Homo sapiens: one gene and its partner. The protein of the gene in region 1 purifies or fractionates together with the protein of each later gene. This does not show direct contact. Each region holds a gene or a part of one and is shown on either strand. Other genes may lie near its edges. The genes, in order: ZNF578 and SMARCAD1.

What was found.
Region 2: the proteins of ZNF578 (region 1) and SMARCAD1 purify together in Homo sapiens (co-immunoprecipitation; one large-scale study listed by IntAct). This does not show direct contact.

Annotation. Positions count from the first base shown.
Region 1 is NC_000019.10:52,456,384-52,460,209, forward strand, and holds part of ZNF578 (zinc finger protein 578), read left to right. Parts: intron 1-293; exon of another isoform or gene 294-353; intron 354-484; 5' UTR 485-575; intron 576-3,826. UniProt on the Homo sapiens protein: May be involved in transcriptional regulation.
Region 2 is NC_000004.12:94,273,601-94,277,426, forward strand, and holds part of SMARCAD1 (SWI/SNF-related matrix-associated actin-dependent regulator of chromatin subfamily A containing DEAD/H box 1), read left to right. Parts: intron 1-16; coding exon 17-116; intron 117-1,137; coding exon 1,138-1,197; intron 1,198-1,289; coding exon 1,290-1,365; intron 1,366-2,738; coding exon 2,739-2,874; intron 2,875-3,421; coding exon 3,422-3,559; intron 3,560-3,826. UniProt on the Homo sapiens protein: DNA helicase that possesses intrinsic ATP-dependent nucleosome-remodeling activity and is both required for DNA repair and heterochromatin organization.

The DNA of each region.
Region 1 (3,826 bases):
TCCAGAGATTCCCATGCATGTAGGTTCAAGCGCAGTGTCCCACATGATTCTAATCTGTATTCATCATTGAACATCAGGGTGCTGTGTCTTCCATTTCTGAAAGCTGATATCGGCCTGTGATCCACAGAGAGGGGAGAGGCTGTGCTCTGCATGGGGTTTGGTCAGGGCCAGATCTGTGCCCTGAAGGGGAGCTCAGTCCAGCCCAGCACCCCACAGCTGCAGCATGTATGTGGGCTTCTCCAGGTGGGGAGTAAGCTTTGAAGAACTCAAAAACTGACTTGTTCTTCCTGTAGGACTTTCTTGTCTGCATCATCCCTGGTGCTGTGGGCAGCAGAGGGCCATCTTTCCACAGGGCGAGGTCTTTCCTGTGTATGTGGTTGTGGCACAGGGAGGGGGTGTGTTGATTTTGAGCAGTAAACAGCATATTTTGAACACTCAGGATTAACTTGTTTTTTAAAAAGTTTTCTTTTTCTTTTTCTTTCAGGATTAGCTTCTAAAGTCTCTTTCATCTCTCCTAAGGAAGAAGCCTAGAAGAGGAGGAAGAGGAAAGAAAAGGAGTCAGGAATGCCTCTTAGGTACAGTGATATTCTCAGTGGACTGTTGTGTGTCTCCTTCCTTTCTGAAATGCCATGTGTGGTGTTATGATATATATTGGTTTCCATCGACGGTTCCTGGCTTATAACCTCCATAGCCCTTGTTACAATCTTTTGTTGTAATGTTGGATGTGTTAAGCCTCAGGGGTAGGCCTCTGACCTTCTTTTGCCTTCCTTTCACTCTGATGCTCCCCAGCCTTTCTAATTGTGGGTCTTAAGACCCTCCTCCGAGAGCTTCCCACCCTGTACCCTGGGGGGAAGAATGTTGATGTCATGAAACTTCCATAAAAACCCAAAAGGGCAAAGTTCGATGAGCTTCTGGATGGCTGAACACGTGGAGGTTCTTGGAGGTAGTAAGCCCAGGGGCGTCATGGAAGCCCTGCACTCCTTCCTCCATACCTTGCTGTAGGTGCCTCTTCGTCTGTATCCTTTGCAGTATCCTTTATAATAAACTGGTAAAGGTAAGTAAGTGCTTCCCTGAGTTCTGTGAGCCAATCTAGCAAATTAATTGAAGAGGGGGTCGTGTGAACCCCAGTTTGAAGCTGGGTGGTCATAAGTTCTGAAGGCCTGGACTTGCGACTGGTGTGTATGGAGGCAATCTTGGAGACTGAGCCATCAACTCGTGGGATCTGACGTCTCCAGTCTTAATGTACACAGTAGATAGTGTTGGAATTAAACTGGAAGATACCCAGCTAGTGTCTGCTGCTTGGTGTGTGGGGAAAGTACCCACATACATTTAGTCACAGAGGTCTTCTATGTTGATGATTGTTGTGGTGTGAGAGTAGAGGAAAAGCACAATTTGAGGAGAGCTTTTCCCTGTACACATCAGGCATTGGAGATGTCAGTCTTCTCTGAGTCTGAAGCATGCTGCCTGTGATGTTTGCTCACACTCACCCATGTCTTCCCTCAGGCCCTCTGATGTCACTTAAATTCCATCTCACAGTGACTGGTGCTGTGGAATTTGTGAAGAGGCTCCATTGGGAAGGGCTTATACCCAGACATGGATGGAGACGGGGTGTGGGCCCCATGGTGTCACTGCTCTTGGGCAGCAGGAATTGAAGGATTGTTTAAGGGCCAGGTCTGGAGGCACTGCCAGCTCTGTAGACTGGATTATGGAAGCTGCTCGTGGAAGTCTTAATGTGCACAACTGCCTGATAAAATTTGGAAGAAGAGATTAGGAAGAGGAAATCTTTTCTGCCTGATTTTATACTCCATTTGTAGTAAATGTTTAACAGCAAGAGATTCTTTAAACCATTCTAAGTACATCCATCCTATGGAGATTGTGGTATTCCTGCAGAGACTCTTGTGAAACAGATGTTTCAGGTGAAAATGGTAAGACTTGGGTAATACTTCTTCTAGGATGGGGCATTTCCTATTTTCTTAGATCTCTCAAGGTTCCCCTGTTATCCCCAGCTGCAGGGGTACCTCTCCTATCAAGAACATGTGAAATTTTGCCCTCATTAAAAAAAAAACAACAACTTGCTACTATGTTTATATATATATATATTTTGAAAATCTGGGAAAAATGACAACCCTCTGTATTTTCATTTTTCAATTTATTGTCTACATAGGTTTTATTATTTTGGGGACATGTATATACAAAATGAATTTTCATGCTTTGCTCAATTTTCTTTCCATGTATTTTAGTATGTGTTTTAATTTCTGTGGTTTTTATTTCTTTCATATGCCCTGATGTCTTTTATTTCAGGTTATACATTTTTTAATTGTAAGACAAATCTTTCATTTATACCTTCTGATTTTTGTTGTGCCTTTGTTTGTTTCATCTTGATTTGGAAGGCCTTGCATGATTATGAAGTACTAAGTTTCATTTAGGAATAAAGTTTTGTTGTTTAAAATTTTGTTTACATTTGTGTTTAATTTGAATTTTTGCGTATATCATAAGTATTTGATTTGTTGTAAAATTACAGATGTTTGTCATAAGAGGTTCTTACATATTTGGAAAACCCCTCCATTTTGTTTTTCTTTTCAAAATTGTGATGGTTCTCCTTTCACAGGGCACAGTCATTAAAAACTCATATATTTCTTTTGTGTTTGAATGGCTGTGGATTCCTAGTCAGAGAGGTCTTTGTGTCACCACATCTGCTAATAAGAATTGGGTTTTCCGGTCCATGATGCTCTTTGTTATGTCTTTTAGTAAAGTTTATTTGCCTGTTTATAGTTCAGTAATGTTAAGTATGTTCACGTTACTGTGCAACATATCTAGAAGTTTTTCATCTCGCAAAACTGAAACTGTATACCCAGAATACACTATATCCCTTCTGACCTCACTATAGCCTCTGTCAACCCATCTTTCTATGTTGTTTATATGCATTTGACTACTTTAGTATCCCACGTGAGTGGAATCACATAGTATTTGTCCTTTTGTGACTGTCTTATTTTCCCTAGTGTAATGTCCTCAAGGTTCATCCGTGTTGTAGCATATGACAGGATTTTCTCCTTTTATAAAGCTGAATAATATTCCATTGCATGTGTATAACACATTTTCTTTATCCATTCATCTGTAGATAGGCATGTTGGTTTTTCTGTCTTCTTGGCTATTGTATATAATGCTGTGATGAGCAGGGATTTGCAAATATCTCTTTGAGGGCCTGCTTTCAAGTCTTTAATGTGTATGTACACACACACACACACACACACACACACACACACACACATATATATACTACCATATGATCCAGCAGTCTCACTTCTGGGTATGAGTGTGTATATGTAGATATGTGTGTGTGTGTGTGTGTGTGTGTGTGTGTGTGTGTGTATATATATATATATATATTTTTTTTTTTTTTTTTTTTTTTTGAGATGGAGTCTTACTCTGTCACCAGGCTGGAGTGCAGTGGTGCGATCTTGGCTCACTGCAACCTCTGCCTCCTAGGTTCAAGTGATTCTCCTGCCTCAGCCTTCCAAGTACTACAGGTGCGTGCCACCATGCCCAGCTAATTTTGTATTTTTATTAGAGACGGGGTTTCACCATGTTGGCCAGGATGGTCTCAATCTGTTGACCTCGTGATCCACCCACCTCAGCTTCCCAAAGTGCTGGGATTACAGGCATAGCCACCGTGCCTGGCCAGATGTATATTTTCAAATATGTACGTGTGTGTGTATATACACACACAAATATATATACGTGTGTGTATGTATATAGATGTATAAAATATCTACACACACCCATGCCCAGAAGTGGGATTGCTGGATTATATGGTAGTACTGTTTTT
Region 2 (3,826 bases), on another chromosome or scaffold:
CTTTTAAACTTTTTAGGGCCTAGGAAAAACTATTCAAGCCATTGCATTTCTGGCATACCTCTATCAGGAGGGTAATAATGGTCCTCATTTGATCGTTGTTCCAGCTTCAACTATAGGTTTGTAATACTGGAGACAACTGTATTTAACTTTATCATGTTTTATATAGGTAGAAGAGAGTGTGTGTAAGGGTGTGTGTCGGAGGGGTGTTGTGGTTTCTTAGTTTGTAGAGATGAATATTAATTTTATGGTCTCTTTATACTTTTCTCCTTTGTTTATATATGTGTGTTTGATTATATTGGCAGTCTTTTAAAAAGAACTCAAATGTAAGTCAGTTTTAAAATTTTAGACCAAGGACGATTTATGTTGGTTTCATAATACTTTTAGTTACTTTTAAAAGTGACTAAGAGAAAATGAGTACTTTTAAATGTAGAATTAAACAGATACGTAATTAATTCCTACACACATAACTGTTCCATTCTTTCTCAATTCGTTGGATGTAGAAGTTAGAATAAGAGAATATTTGTACATGTGAATGTAACAAAGAAAACCCCCTTCTCTTTAAATTGGAGGTTAATAATCAACTGTAAATATAATATTTGGTCATCTGCCCTTCATTTTGATGCCTCACAAAACCTCAAGATCATTTTACATAGGTTTCATAAGGAGTAATATTGTAAAGGGTCTGTGATAAAAACAATCGCCATGGTATTTATATTTTAATTTTTAATTTTTATTTATTTTTTTTAAGACAGTCTCGCTGTGTCACCCAGGCTGGAGTGTGGTGGCTCAATCTTGGCTCACCGCAACCTCCGCCTCCCAGGTTCTCGTGCCTCAGCCTCCCGAGTAGCTGGGACTACAGGCGCCCGCCACCATGCCTGGCTAATTTTTGTATTTTTAGTGGAGATGGGGTTTCACCATGTTGGCCAGGCTGGTATCAAACTCCTGACCTCAGGTGATCCACCCGCCTCAGCTTCCCAAAGTGTTGGGATTACAGGCATGAGCCACCTTGCTGGGCCAGTATTTACTTTTTATAAAAGACTGATTTCTGAGTAGCACTTGTCAAAGTTTAGTGTTAATTTAACCATGTGAACATACCCTATTGTAGCAGATGCAAATAATGTCTCTTCTGTTCCATAGATAACTGGTTAAGGGAAGTTAATTTATGGTGCCCTACTTTGAAGGTCCTCTGTTACTATGGTAAGAATATGTCATTCTGCTTTTAACTTTGGAAATTAAAAATAAAGTACAGCACAATAAATAGTCATGTGTTTATTGTTTTTAAATTCTAGGTTCTCAAGAAGAACGTAAACAAATTAGATTTAACATTCATAGTAGATATGAAGATTACAATGTAATTGTGACCACGTAAGTATTGAGAAATTTGGGGAGGATGGATATTTATGCAGCCCCCAAATTTAAAAAAGAAATTGTAGTAGTACTATGTAGGAAAGTTTATGCTGTTAACTGTGATACGAAAGTAATAGAATGACTAATGTTGAGGATTCAGGCATTTTTTAGTTTGGTGTGTAATACCCATATAGGAGGTTTTTGTTAGTGAATCACCTCATTAATGGTGACTATAAAAAGGTTTTGCCTAGTTATTGAAAAAAGTCGTCTTGTAATAGTAATTTCTCAGTTAAGCTTAAAGTAAAATTTGAGATATCCCACCAAAATTATTTATATTTTTAACTTACAAATAAGTATCTGTAATAAATACAATGAAATTTCATTTTCTCAATGAAAAATTTGAGTTAGGGCAGAAATAAAAATGAAAAATAATACTAATAATACTACTTGGTAATAATTGATGTAAATATCTTGCACAGAACTTAATGCTCTTGTGTTACATTAGTTGATTTATTTAAAGTTCTATTTTAACTGTAGTTATTATTTCTCTCTACTGGCTTCTTGTGTAGGAGTCTGTCCTTTAAAAATTCATGCGGAATTTTATTTTTTCTTAATAAAACAGGCTCCATATGCAGTCTCAAGCTGCTAGCTATTAACTATTATTTCTTGGATCTAATCTGCTAGTTTAATAAAATATTAAGTTTTAAAGAGAAACATGTTTTAGCTTCACGTTCTTTTTTGTGCTTATTAAAATATAACACTTCATGGAGCAGATTACTTACAAGTTATACCCAAATTGACCTCCTCCTGGGTATGTAGAAGTTGTCCGATTGTAACATTAACATTTTCTTTTTTTTTTTTTTTTTTGAGACGGAGTCTCACTCTGTCCCCCAGGCTAGAGTGCAGTGGCGCGATCTCAGCTTACTGCAACCTCTTGCCTCCCGGGTTCACGCCATTCTCCTGCCTCAGCCTCCTGAATAGCTGGGACTACAGGCGCCCACCACCACACCCGGCTAATTTTTTATATTTTTAGTAGAGACAGGGTTTCACCGTGTTAGCCAGGATGGTCTCGATCTTCTGACCTCGTGATCCGCCCGCCTCGGCCTCCAAAAGTGCTGGGATTACAGGTGTGAGCCACCGCTCCCAGCCTTTTAACATTTTCTTTCAATTATGTATTGCAGCTTTCATAGCTTGGTTACAGTGTACATCAATAATTATTAAATACAAGTACGTCAGTATTTATTTGAGTATCACCCGTGTCTAGTGCTGTGCTTTAAGTACTGGCTGTTAGAAATGTGTAAATAAAAAATGATTTTATAAGACATTAAATTTCACTAGACTCCAAGCTCTTAAAGGTATAACCTTAGAGATGTTTTTTCTTTTGGTGACAGATATAACTGTGCGATCAGCAGTTCTGATGACCGTAGTCTGTTTCGACGGCTGAAACTTAATTACGCAATTTTTGATGAGGGCCATATGCTGAAGAATATGGGCTCCATTCGCTACCAGCACCTTATGACAATTAATGTAAGAGAATGTTTGTAAAGTTTTCCAAATTACTGTAAAATTTAGATTACGTAATTTAATATATGTAGTATTTATTAGCAGAATCTGTATTATGTAGTTTAATATATGTAGTATTCTGTGTTAGCAAGTTTTTTCTGTAAAAGGGAAGATAGTAAATATTTCACACTTTATGGACTAGATGGCCTCTGTCACGTATTCTTTGATTTTGTTTTTTAACAACCCTTTAAAAAATTATTAGGTCATAAGCCATAATTTACCTGTTCTATATGTTAAACTATTTATAAATAATCTTTCATCATCTCATAAAGGTGATACGAGGACACAAGTTACCTACTTATAAAAGAAGACCAATGGTTTTCGTATTCATTGCTGTTGATAATAGCGGACGTCAATTATTTAAATTACTATATCATTTATCACAGAATGTTAAATTATTAATAATGGTTTTAATTTATCTCTCCTCCCTTCACCTTTCACTGGGGAGGATAGACATGAAAGGAGTGGCTCTTTAAGAAAAAGCTAATATAAATTTTACCTTCATTCACAGGCAAATAACCGTTTGCTGCTCACAGGCACACCTGTACAGAACAATCTGTTAGAACTCATGTCGCTGTTGAATTTTGTTATGCCACACATGTTTAGTAGTAGCACCAGTGAAATACGAAGAATGTTTTCCTCTAAGACAGTAAGCATAAATGCATATTTTCTCCCAAATATGTTATTTGTGTTTTATCTGGGCCATTCTTCTGTTAGGTCTCTTTTGTTGTTTTCATAGTGCATATGCTCTATGAAGTAACTTTAAGTAGGTGATAACTCTATATTTGGATTGGTTTGGAAACCAGCCAAAATATAATGGGAAAGAAAATAGCAATTTCCCTAATCAATGGCCAGAAGTCTTGGTTAATATCCTAATTTTCTGAAGGATGACGATTTTAAATTGATGAAGAGCTCA